Linked DNA regions of Homo sapiens: region 1 is linked to region 2. Evidence: fine-mapped expression QTL. A gene starts in region 2. The other region holds a variant in brackets. All regions are shown on one strand. Distances are from middle to middle. Region 1 overlaps RNF212B (ring finger protein 212B). Region 2 holds the start of PPP1R3E (protein phosphatase 1 regulatory subunit 3E).

Region 1 (5,377 bases), 44 kb after region 2:
CCCGCCATTCTCCTGCCTCAGCCTCCCGAGCAGCTGGGACTACAGGTGTCCTCCACCACGCCCGGCTAATTTTGTTTTTGTATTTTTAGTAGAGATGGGGTTTCACCATGTTAGCCAGAACGGTCTCAATCTCCTGACCCCATGATCCGCCCACCTTGGCCTCCCAAAGTGCTGTGATTACGGGTGTGAGCCACCACACCCAGCCGATACTAAAAATATATTTAAGAGTTGGTAGAGCATAGATATCACTAATTAGAAAGGACCGGTGGTATATATCCAGCCTGTAACATGGTACCTGATAAACAGTAGGCACTTAATATTGAATGAATGAACAGACCATCTAACTCCACCTAATGCAGTCTTCACAGAGGAAATGACTGAGTTCAATTTTGAAGGATGAGTAGTGTAAAAAGTAAGGTGGAGGTTCCTCTTTAAAGACTTTCCTCTTCATCTAATTAGGAATAAATAGTAACTTCTCTTAAAAGCAAAATTTATTTAAAGACCTGTACTAACATTCTTAAATATCTGCTAGCCGTAATAAAGAAATCAATGTACTTTATGTTCTTAGCTCCCACAATTTAGCCTAAATATTTGCCCTGGCATGCTTAGATTGGTCCAAACAAGCATTAGGTTATAGTCTGTTCCTCTTCCTTATTTGAAGGTGTTTTTACCTTTCTCAGCATTCCACAAGTTACTTCCTCCTTCCTTTGTTCTCCTCTACCTTTGCCCCTTTTCATAAGTTCTAAGTTGCTAGCCAATCGGAACAAATACAGAATGTGAGGTCTGGTTCCAGCCAATGGAAACCGGACACAGCAGTAAGGTAGACGCGTCAGGTTATGAACGACCCTGTCTCCTTTGTTCAGTGTACTCTCGTGGCAAAACTGCCGGCGAGTGTACCCTTTCTGCAGGAAGTAAAAATGACCTTGCTGAGTAAATTAAATTTATGTTCAAATGCTATTTCTTTATGGCACCAGGGAACAAGCATTTCAAACACTAGGATTTCATAAGATGACAATCCAGGGTGAGCATTACAATTAAGATTTTACTTCGGCACTTTCAGTAACTAACTCTTCCTCGGAGAAGTGAAAGCTAAATTCATTAACCATTTTCTCTCTCTCAGAGTTCACACAGCCAGGAGTCAAGAAAGAACAGGAATTTTCAGGGGGCTGGGCTAGTATGGGAGCTGATAAAACTGACCTGCTTCCTTGGTACCGACTTGGAGATTCCTATAGGTGAAAAAACCAGGAGTGAAGAAAGCTGCAACTGAGGATCCTAATCAACAGATCTTCAGTCTTACTTGCGAGATAACTAAGCTCAGTGCCCCTTAGTCATGGTTGCTAAGACTCCCAGTAGGAGGAAAAGTAGCAGCAGTATTTCCTTAGGATATTATTAGCTTTGAGGGGATAAAAGTTTAGTTCTTCATAAGAGTGCATACGGAATCCCATAGACTAACATATGTGGGGAAATACGGAGTCTCTGGTGAGAGAAAGGAAAATGACACACTACAATGTGCTAGAATAATTACAGGAGTAGGATCAATAGGAAAATTATATAAATACACAGAACATTCTTAGGAAGAAAAACTATTTAGGAAGTAGAGTGTGATGCAGAGGAAGGGTCCTGAGGTATCTTTGAGTTTCTTGAAGAGAAATGTTTAAGTTGCAACAGCTGTCTCTTCTATAAGAGAGCTTTCCAACTGGTAGGTCATGACTCACTGATGTTCAGGAATGGGTTACAAGTGTGCTATATATTGATCCTTTCAGTCCCCCAAGGTCTGCTGAGACCTCATCCATTTACTATAGTGTGCTTGTTATACAAATATCAATTTCTGTGTGTGCCATGATGAGAAAAAGATTAGGAAACACTATTCTATACAGTCAGCTAGATAGATGAGAAAAGTAAGAGAGAAAATAATAATAAGGAAAATCTATTTCATTCACCTTTAGAATGGCTAGAAATTTCTTCAGTTCTCCATTCTCCTTCCTTAAGACTGACAATTCTCTAGGCAAAAGATGGAAACAATCAGCTCCAGCAAATCAGGGATTAAAAACCTGATTTTTTATTATTATAACTATTAACATCTAGTTAATACTTACTGAGAAATGCTTGCAGCTATACAAGCTATTTCTATCAGGGATTTGATGATTCAAGGAGACTAATGGCAGGGTTTTGATAATGAGAACAATTAGGTGGACAAAATAAGCAATTACTTGGTATGATTTCAGGGGAATTTGCAAAGAATTCCATTTCCTCTCTCCACCCACACACACACCCCTGGCCTGCTGATGTCTAAAAATTTTTATCAAGGACTCCATCTTGTGATTGCTTTGGCAGCACATACACTAAAATTGGAACAATACAGAGGAGATTAACATAGCCCCCAAAGAAAGTTAACATGTAAATGCTTGAAGCATTCCATAAAAAAAAAAAACAAAAAAAACTTTAAAAGAAGAAAAAAAAAGGATTCCAGACCAGCCTGGGCAATATGCAGAGACTCCTCTCTACAAAAAAAAAAAAAAAATACAAAAATTAGCCAGGCATAGTGGTGTGCACTTGTAGTCCCAGCTACTTGGGAGGCTGAGGTGGGAGGATTGCTTGAGCCCAGGAGATTGAGGCTACAATGAGTGTTATCAGTGTGAATCAGCTATATCTGATTTCCCAAGGAAGCAGATGTTTTTTTTTGTTTTTGTTTTTGAGACAGTGTCTCACTTTTTCACCCACGCTGGAGTGTCGTGGTGTGATCATAGCTCACTGTAACTCAGA[C/G]TCCTGGGCTCAAACGATCTTCTGGCCTCAGCCTCCCAAGTAGCTGGGACTACAGGTGTGAACCACCATGTCTGGCTAATTTTTGTTTAAAATTTTTTTTTTTTTAGAAACAGAGTCTCGCTGTGTTGCCCAGGCTGATCTTCTCCTGGCCTCAAGTGATCTTCTGCTTCGGTCACCCAAAGTGCTGGGATTACAGGTGTGAGCCACTGCACCTGGTCTGGGAAGCAGTTTTTGATACCGAGAAATAGAAGAGGAAAACTATAAAGTGAGGAGGGCCTCTGGAGGGAAGAAAGAGAAAAAATGGAGATTCAGGGGATCAAAAATTCTGTACCTGATTTTCCCAAACAAACAAATACATATGGAGCAATTTCCAGGCTTTGCAAACACAATAAGGACTGTCACTTCTTAGAAAAAAAAAAAAAAAAAAAGCTCTCTTGGGACTTGATTTGTTACTTACTTGTCCTGGCTCACCAGTGCTTGCTGTGCCTCCTGCATGGCTGTTTCTAACTTTGTAATTCTATGCTTATAAAAGGCGATGAGGAGATCTGTTTGTTTCTTCTGGAAACTCCACACCTACTAGGGAAAAACAAGCCTTTGACATACTCTCCCATAACTCCTTTCCCTTCACTTCTGGCAAGAAAGGGAAGCCATCAAATCACACTTTATTATACTGCTCATTTTCTTCTAGAACATCTGGCCTAATTCACAACTTCCCAGAACTAGAGAGCTCAGCACTCATTTCCAGGACACTAGCCTTCTACTGTCTTTTTTTTTTTTTTTTTTGAGACAGAGTTTCGCTATTGTTGCCCAGGCTAGAGTGCAATAGTGCGATCTCGGCTCACCGTAACCTCTGCCTCCTGGGTTCAAGCTATTCTCCTGCCTCAGCCTCCCGAATAGCTGGGTTTACAGGCATGTGCTACCACGCCCAGCTAATTTTGTATTTTTAGTAGAGACGGGGTTTCTACATGTTGGTCAGGCTAGTCTTGAACTTCCGACCTCAGGTGATCTACCCACCTCAGCCTCCCAAAGTGTTGGGATTACAGGCGTGAGCCACCGCACCCGGCCCCTTTTACTATCTTAATGAGAATATTCTACCATAGTAGAATGACCCTTTAAATATATAATTTTTCATCCCGTGCAAGAAGAGAGATTTTTTTTAAAACTGTTTTTCAAGCTTAGAATTGGTTCTAACTTGTCAACTATTAGTTTGGATCAGCCTCCACATTCATAGCTATTACACAGCCTTGGTGACCAATTTATTTTCCCTAAAGACACCTACAGAGTCACCTGCAGGCTGCTTATGCTGCTATAGGAAAGGGTGGAGAGGCACAGAAGGAGATTACCTATGCTTGAATTTTTTTTCTGGGCATGCACACGTAATTTTTTATTTTGCCTCACTTTACCATTTGCTATACTAATGTGTCTATCATGGGATTGCTGAATCGGATCAAAAGTTAATATTTAGAAAGTGTTTTAGCTTTGTCAGGCTCTACTTTTGAGTACACAGCAGTATTTACGTCTCATCTGCTTCCTCCCTGTTCAGACTATAAACCCTCTTTTGTCTAGGGTCCTTTCCTAGATCTTGGTACTCTTCTCATAAACTTTTTGTTCTCACTTAATTTTCAAATTGCTCTTGCCACCTTACTAAAGAATTGTACTTAAGAGTTTCCTTTCTACTTGAAAGTAAACTAAACTAGTTTTAGATAGATAAGAATTTACTCTAGTCTATTTTTTTAAACCCTCATTTTTAATAAAACTAAAATGTTTATTTTAAGCTGTGAAAAGAAAATGTTTACTTTAAGCCAGGCATGGTGATCATGCCTATAATCTCAGAGACTCAGGAAGCCAAGGCTGAGGCAGGAGGATTGCTTGAGGCCAGGAATTTGAGACCAGCCTAAGCAACATAGCAAGACCCTGTCTCTATGAAAAATAATTTTGATTTATTTTATTTTATTTTTTTTGTGTGTGTGTGACTGAGTCTCGCTCTGTCGCCCAGGCTGGAGTGCAATGGCACGATCTCAGCTCACTGCAACCTCCGCCACCCACGTTCAAGCGATTCTCCTGCCTCAGCCTCCTGAGTAGCTGGGATTACAGGCGTCCGCCACCACGCCTGGCTAATATTTGTATTTTTAATAGAGACAGGGTTTCACCATGTTGGTCAGACTGGTCTCGAACTCCTGACCTCGTGATCCACCTGCCTCAGCCTCCCAAAGTGCTGGGATTACAGGTGTGAGCCACCATGCCCGGCCAAAAAATAATTTAAAAAATTTAGCCAGGCGTGATAATACATTCCTGTAATCTCAACTACCTGAAAGGCTGAAGTGGGTGGATTGCTTGAACCCAGGAGTTTGAGGCTGCAGGGACCCATGATCGTGCCTCTGCACTGCAGTCTGGGCAACAGAGCAACAGCCCAACTTAAAAAAATTATTTTAGAAAATTTGAATAGAGGAGGCCAGGCGTGGTGGCTCATGCTTGTAATCCTAGCACTTTGGGAGACCAAGGTGGGCAGATCACTTGAGGTCAGGAGTTCGAGACCAGCCTGGCCAATATGGCAAAACCCCGTCTCTATTAAAAATGCAAAAATTAGCCAGGCATGGTGGCGTGCACCTGTAAT
Region 2 (5,377 bases):
CTGCAGCAATAACAGTAACAACTAGCTGGGTTCGGTGGCTCATACCTGTAATCCCAACACTTTGGGAGGCCAAGGCGGGTGGATCACTTGAGGCCAGGAGTTCGAGACCAGCCTGACCAACATGGCAAAACCCCATCTCTACTAAAAATACAAAAATTAGCCAGACGTAAAATACAAAAATTAGCCAGCCTGTAATCCCAGCTGCTCAGGAGGCTGAGGCATGAGAATCACTTGAACCCAGGAGGCTGAGATCATGCCACTGCACTCCAGACTGGGTGATAGAACGAGACTCTATCTCAAAAAAAAAAAAAGGTAAAAACTAACATATTTTGAGGAGTTATTAGATGCTGTGCTTTTTTTACATGTGTATTTTTTCCTCTCACCAGTCCTTATGCTGTTTTATCCTCATTCTATGAATGAGGAAATTGAGGTTTGGAGAGGTTAAGTGATTTTCCCAAAGCCATAGGCTGATATGTAAGAAGCTAGCACAGCCATCTCATGCTGTAACTTTGACACTATCGCTTCAAGATCACCTCTTGCCTTCACATAGTCAATATGGTTCTCATAGTCTGAATCCACACCATTTACAAGTCCATACTCAATTCTCTCCTCTATTCTAAACACACAGCCTATTACACTCCTTTATGGCTGTATCCTTTCAACCATCCTCATTTCATTTTTGCTCTTAGCCTGATCATTCTGGCTGCCACCAGCAAGGTTGCCCTCTTCTTTAGAGAATAACCTAGTCCAAGTCTTCATTTGCACTCCTGGTTTATTTGTTTGTTTGTGATACAAGGTTCTCACTCCATGGCCTAAACTGGAGTGCAGTGGTACAAGCACAGTTCACTTCAGCTTCCACCGTCTAGGCTCAAGCAATCTTCCCACTTCAGCCTCCCTGGTAGCTGGGACTAGAGGTGTACTGCACCATGCTTGGTTAAATTCATTTTTTATAGAGATAGGGATCTCATTATGTTGCCCAGACTGATCTCAAACTCCTGGGCCAGCTTGATTGTAACATAAATTAATGTATGATTTATTAGACATTAATTTATATGCATTATATATATTATATTGTATATGCATATACAATATATACATTGTATATATTGTATCACATATAATGATACGAAGAGAATACATCCATGCATTCTATATACGTGTAAAATTTAAAAAGTCAATATTGCTTTAAAAATGAGTCCTAGCTAACTAGTATTGCTACAGTCAATACTAGTGCGAATGCATGTAAACAGGAATGAATTGTATAATAATAAGATAACATGTGTCTCATGGTTTATTTTCAACTTAGTCACTTGTGGTTTTACAGTTAAACTATCCTGCTGCTTTAAATTTAGAGACTTCATTTCTACTCTAATATTCCCTCTTTTAACACTCTGAGGATGTTAACTATTATTGTTAAATGTTTTAATCTTATATAACCAAGCGGGTAAGAGCGTGGACTCTAGAGCTAAACTGTTTAGGTCCTAATCCCACCTCCCCAATTATTAACTATGTGACCCTGGGTAAGAGTCCTCTCCCCTCTCTCCCTCAATTCTCTCATCTTTAAACTAGACATAATAGTCTCTATTCCTCTGATGGTTGTATTACATGGGTTAGTATTTGTAAAACCCTTACAACAGTACCTAGCACATTGTAAGTGCTATATTAGATCAGTAGGAAAGTTAGAAAAAAACTAAAAACAACTTCACTTTTTTTTTTCACTAATGTTAAAAAAAAAAAATGAAAGGGGAAAAAGCCAGCTCTGCCCTTCTTGGAAGCTCCCACTGGACCTATAATTCCACAGTCCCAACTCCAAGAGAGTTGTTGGGTGCTTGTTCATTCAATAATTTGAGTGCCTACCATATACTAAAACTCACCATGAATCAGACAAAGCCCCTGCCCTCAAAGGGCTTACACTTGGATTAGAAATCAGAACTCCACCACTTTTTTACAGATAAGAACACTGAGTTCAGAGTATGGCTCTGAGTTCAGGGGTGGCTCACACCTGTAATCCCAGCACTTTGGGAGGCCGAGGCGGGCAGATCACCTGAGATCAGGAGTTCAAGACCAGCCTGGCCAAGATGGTGAAACCCCGTGTCTACTAAAAATACAAAAATTAGCCGGGCGTGGTGGTGGACGCCTGTAATCCCAGCTACTCAGGAGGCTGAGGCAGGAAAACCGCTTGAACCGGGGAGGCAGAAGTTGCAGTGAGCCGAGATCACGCCACTGCACTCCAGCCTGGGCGACAGAGCGAGACTCCATCTCACACTCACACACACACACACACACACACACACACGAGAACACTGACTCCAGAGAAGTTATGCCTTGCTTGCTCAAGGTCACTAGAAGCTAGGTCTTCCTGCAGTTCTCAGTTCGGGTGCCATATTCTCACCTTCTATTTGAAAGACTCTACCTAGCTTTCATGACCTTTCCTTCTTTGCACGCACCACCACCCCCTGCCCAAACCAGGAGCCTAGGTTTCAGAAAAGAAAACAGTGAACCCCAAAGATAAAGTCACATGCTGGGCGTTTTGAACCTTCCCCTGCAAGAAAATGAAAGGTTATTTTTTCTTCCCGGCGTTAACCTTTCCTGTGCTGTGCCGGAAAAGTTGAGGACTTTTTACATTTTATTATTATTATTATTGTAGAGATCAGGGGTCTCACTATGACGCCCAGGCTGGTCTTGAACTCCAGGCTTCAAGCGATCCTCCCACCTCGGCCTCCCAAAGTGCTGGGATTTGAGGCGTGAGCCATCGCGTCCCGTCCGTGGATGTTTTTTTTAAAAGGTTGAGTAGCTTCACTCGGGACCGCAAAGGTGGAGTCCCCGCCCCCTGGTGCAGCAGCGAAGACAAGCGGAGCCACCTGTCAGAGGGCTGTGGGCGGGGGCGCCCGGGCCGTGAGGGCCTTGGAACCGGAGGGTGAGTGCAGTTGAGCGCACGCTCAGAGCAGACCGCTAGCAGGAGGCAGGATGTGATAGTCTAAGACCCTGGAAGCTGACGGCCAGAGGGAGGGAAGGGTGGTCACAGAGGAGAGGCAAAGCAACGGGAGGTGGAGGATCCTGGAGGTGTCTGCAAGGAGAATACACAGCAGCGAGGGGCTGCAGAAGCGGACCCAGCGACTTCTGCGCTGACGCGGGGCGGGCGGGAGAGAGGAAGAGAGGGGAGCGCGGTGGCGCTGCGAGCTGGCCCCGCCGGGGAAGGGGCTGCCATGTCCCGTGAGCGGCCCCCGGGCACCGACATTCCCCGCAACCTGAGCTTCATCGCCGCGCTAACGGAGCGCGCCTACTACCGTAGCCAGCGGCCCAGCCTCGAGGAGGAGCCGGAGGAGGAGCCAGGCGAGGGCGGGACGCGGTTCGGGGCCCGATCCCGCGCTCACGCACCGAGTCGGGGCCGCCGGGCCCGATCTGCACCAGCCGGAGGCGGCGGGGCCCGGGCGCCCCGCAGCCGTAGCCCAGACACCCGCAAGAGAGTGCGTTTCGCCGACGCACTGGGGTTGGAGCTGGCTGTCGTGCGCCGCTTCCGTCCCGGTGAGCTGCCCCGGGTGCCCCGCCACGTGCAGATCCAATTGCAGAGGGACGCCCTCCGCCACTTCGCGCCCTGCCAGCCCCGCGCCCGCGGCCTCCAGGTAGGCGGCGGGGGCACCTCCCCTCCTGGGGACCTCCTCCAGTCGGCCGCAGCGGGCTTGTGGGAGTGGATTTGCCAAAGAGCACCCATCTCCATCCCATCCCTGGGCTTGCGCCTGCCCATCCCTTTTGGGGACCCCATCTGCGAGTGGCTCTAGGCCACCCTGGCAGCTGGGCCGCACTCTGCCGGCCTGGACGCCGGGGTCGGCCTCTGATTGGTCCAGTGCCTTGCTCTGACACCGCCCCCTGTCTCTCCCCTCTCTCCGCCCTGGGCTCCCTCCTCCCGCTTCTTCTTTCCCCCAGGAGGCGCGCGCCGCCCTGGAGCCGGCCAGCGAGCCCGGCTTCGCCGCCCGCTTGCTGACGCAGCGCATCTGCCTGGAACGCGCCGAGGCGGGCCCGCTGGGCGTGGCCGGGAGCGCGCGCGTGGTGGACCTGGCCTACGAGAAGCGCGTGAGCGTGCGCTGGAGCGCCGACGGCTGGCGGAGCCAACGCGAGGCGCCAGCCGCCTACGCCGGTCCGGCCCCGCCCCCGCCGCGCGCCGACCGCTTCGCCTTCCGCCTGCCCGCGCCGCCGATTGGGGGCGCCCTGCTCTTCGCCTTGCGCTACCGTGTGACAGGTCACGAGTTCTGGGACAACAACGGCGGCCGTGACTATGCTCTACGTGGGCCCGAGCACCCGGGCAGTGGCGGAGCTCCGGAGCCGCAGGGCTGGATCCACTTTATCTGAGACGAGGCGCCTGCGGCCGACGGCGGAAAACACCAAAGGCACCCGGGGGCGGGGCGACCCGATGTGGCGGGGAGGAGTAGGAGAGACCAGGATTGGCGGGAGCGGTCCAAGGGAGTCAAGCCGGGGAGGGCGAAAAGGGTGGGGAAATCAGGGGCGTGGGGGCGTGGGGGCGTGGGGGCGGGGGGAGTGAGCGGAACCAAAGAAGCTCCGGGAGATCCGGGTGTTAAAAGCTGGTTGGATGTGAGTGGAAGGAACTCAGAATATAGGAGGAAGGAGACCCGAAACGGCACCGGAGGGATTATAAAAAAAGGAAAAGAATGGGGATGATGGTGGCCTTCCCTTCAGTGAGTGGGCTCTGGGAGAAAGGGAGGAGGTCCATCAGGCCTAGGCGGTTGAAGAAGGTTAAGAACCTTTTGGAGATGGAGGAGGTATGATGTGAAGTAGCCCACCCAGTCGAAGGCATTTACATTGCTGGCGCATTCCCTCTTCTTACCGGCCTTTTCCACCTCAGATCCCCCTGTCCTACCCATCCTAGCTTTAACTCAGCCATAATTGCCTTGCTTAATCCCAGGAACCTGGCCACTGCTCCTTGGTCCTTGGCATTATGACGGGATTCCCTTGTCACCTCTGACAGTTCCTGGCTGCGGTGTCCGCGGACTGGCTGGGGAGTGATGACAGGTAGCTATCAGAGCTCCAGCCTCCAGGCAGCTTTAGGGATTAAAACGGAGGCCAAAGCAACTCCAGACCTGTTTTTATAGCCAAATACTGAGCCTCAGGGGTTGTACACTCAGGGGCTTCCAGGAAAATGCCAGCCTTACTTTTCTGGGGTGCCTTTTAATAACCTCCAAGCACTTTGTGGACTGTTTGTCGAGGGACGGTGAATCAGAAGAATCACTATTCTGATTTCCTTTGTCTCCGAAGAGGAAGTCCCTGACTAGCTATATAACTTTGGGCGAGTTACCTCTCACTTCTTTGTGCCCCAGTGTTCTCCTTGGGAAACTGGATTTAGGTTAGATGACCTTTTAAGGCT

The links. PIP is the estimated chance that this variant, and not a neighbour inherited with it, causes the effect.
Region 1: its variant is fine-mapped to the expression of PPP1R3E in whole blood (TOPMed, PIP above 0.99).

The regions. Positions count from the first base shown.
Region 1 is chr14:23,256,508-23,261,884 of GRCh38, reverse strand. RNF212B (ring finger protein 212B) reads right to left here. Exons shown (of 15, transcript NM_001282322.3): 5 at 3,221-3,336; 6 at 1,941-2,001; 7 at 1,198-1,226. It also overlaps the pseudogene RNU6-1046P. Among named protein-coding and RNA genes, the nearest start is that of RNF212B, 21 kb to the right of the region's middle. The variant C/G (reference allele first, on the strand shown) is at 2,764.
Region 2 is chr14:23,300,406-23,305,782 of GRCh38, reverse strand. PPP1R3E (protein phosphatase 1 regulatory subunit 3E) reads left to right here and starts at 2,924. Exons shown (of 5, transcript NM_001276318.2): 1 at 2,924-3,623; 2 at 3,925-4,485; 3 at 4,919-5,025. The coding sequence starts at 3,207. The coding sequence ends at 4,347. RefSeq lists silencers at 3,138-3,647, 3,728-3,787, 3,798-4,227 and an enhancer at 4,288-4,477.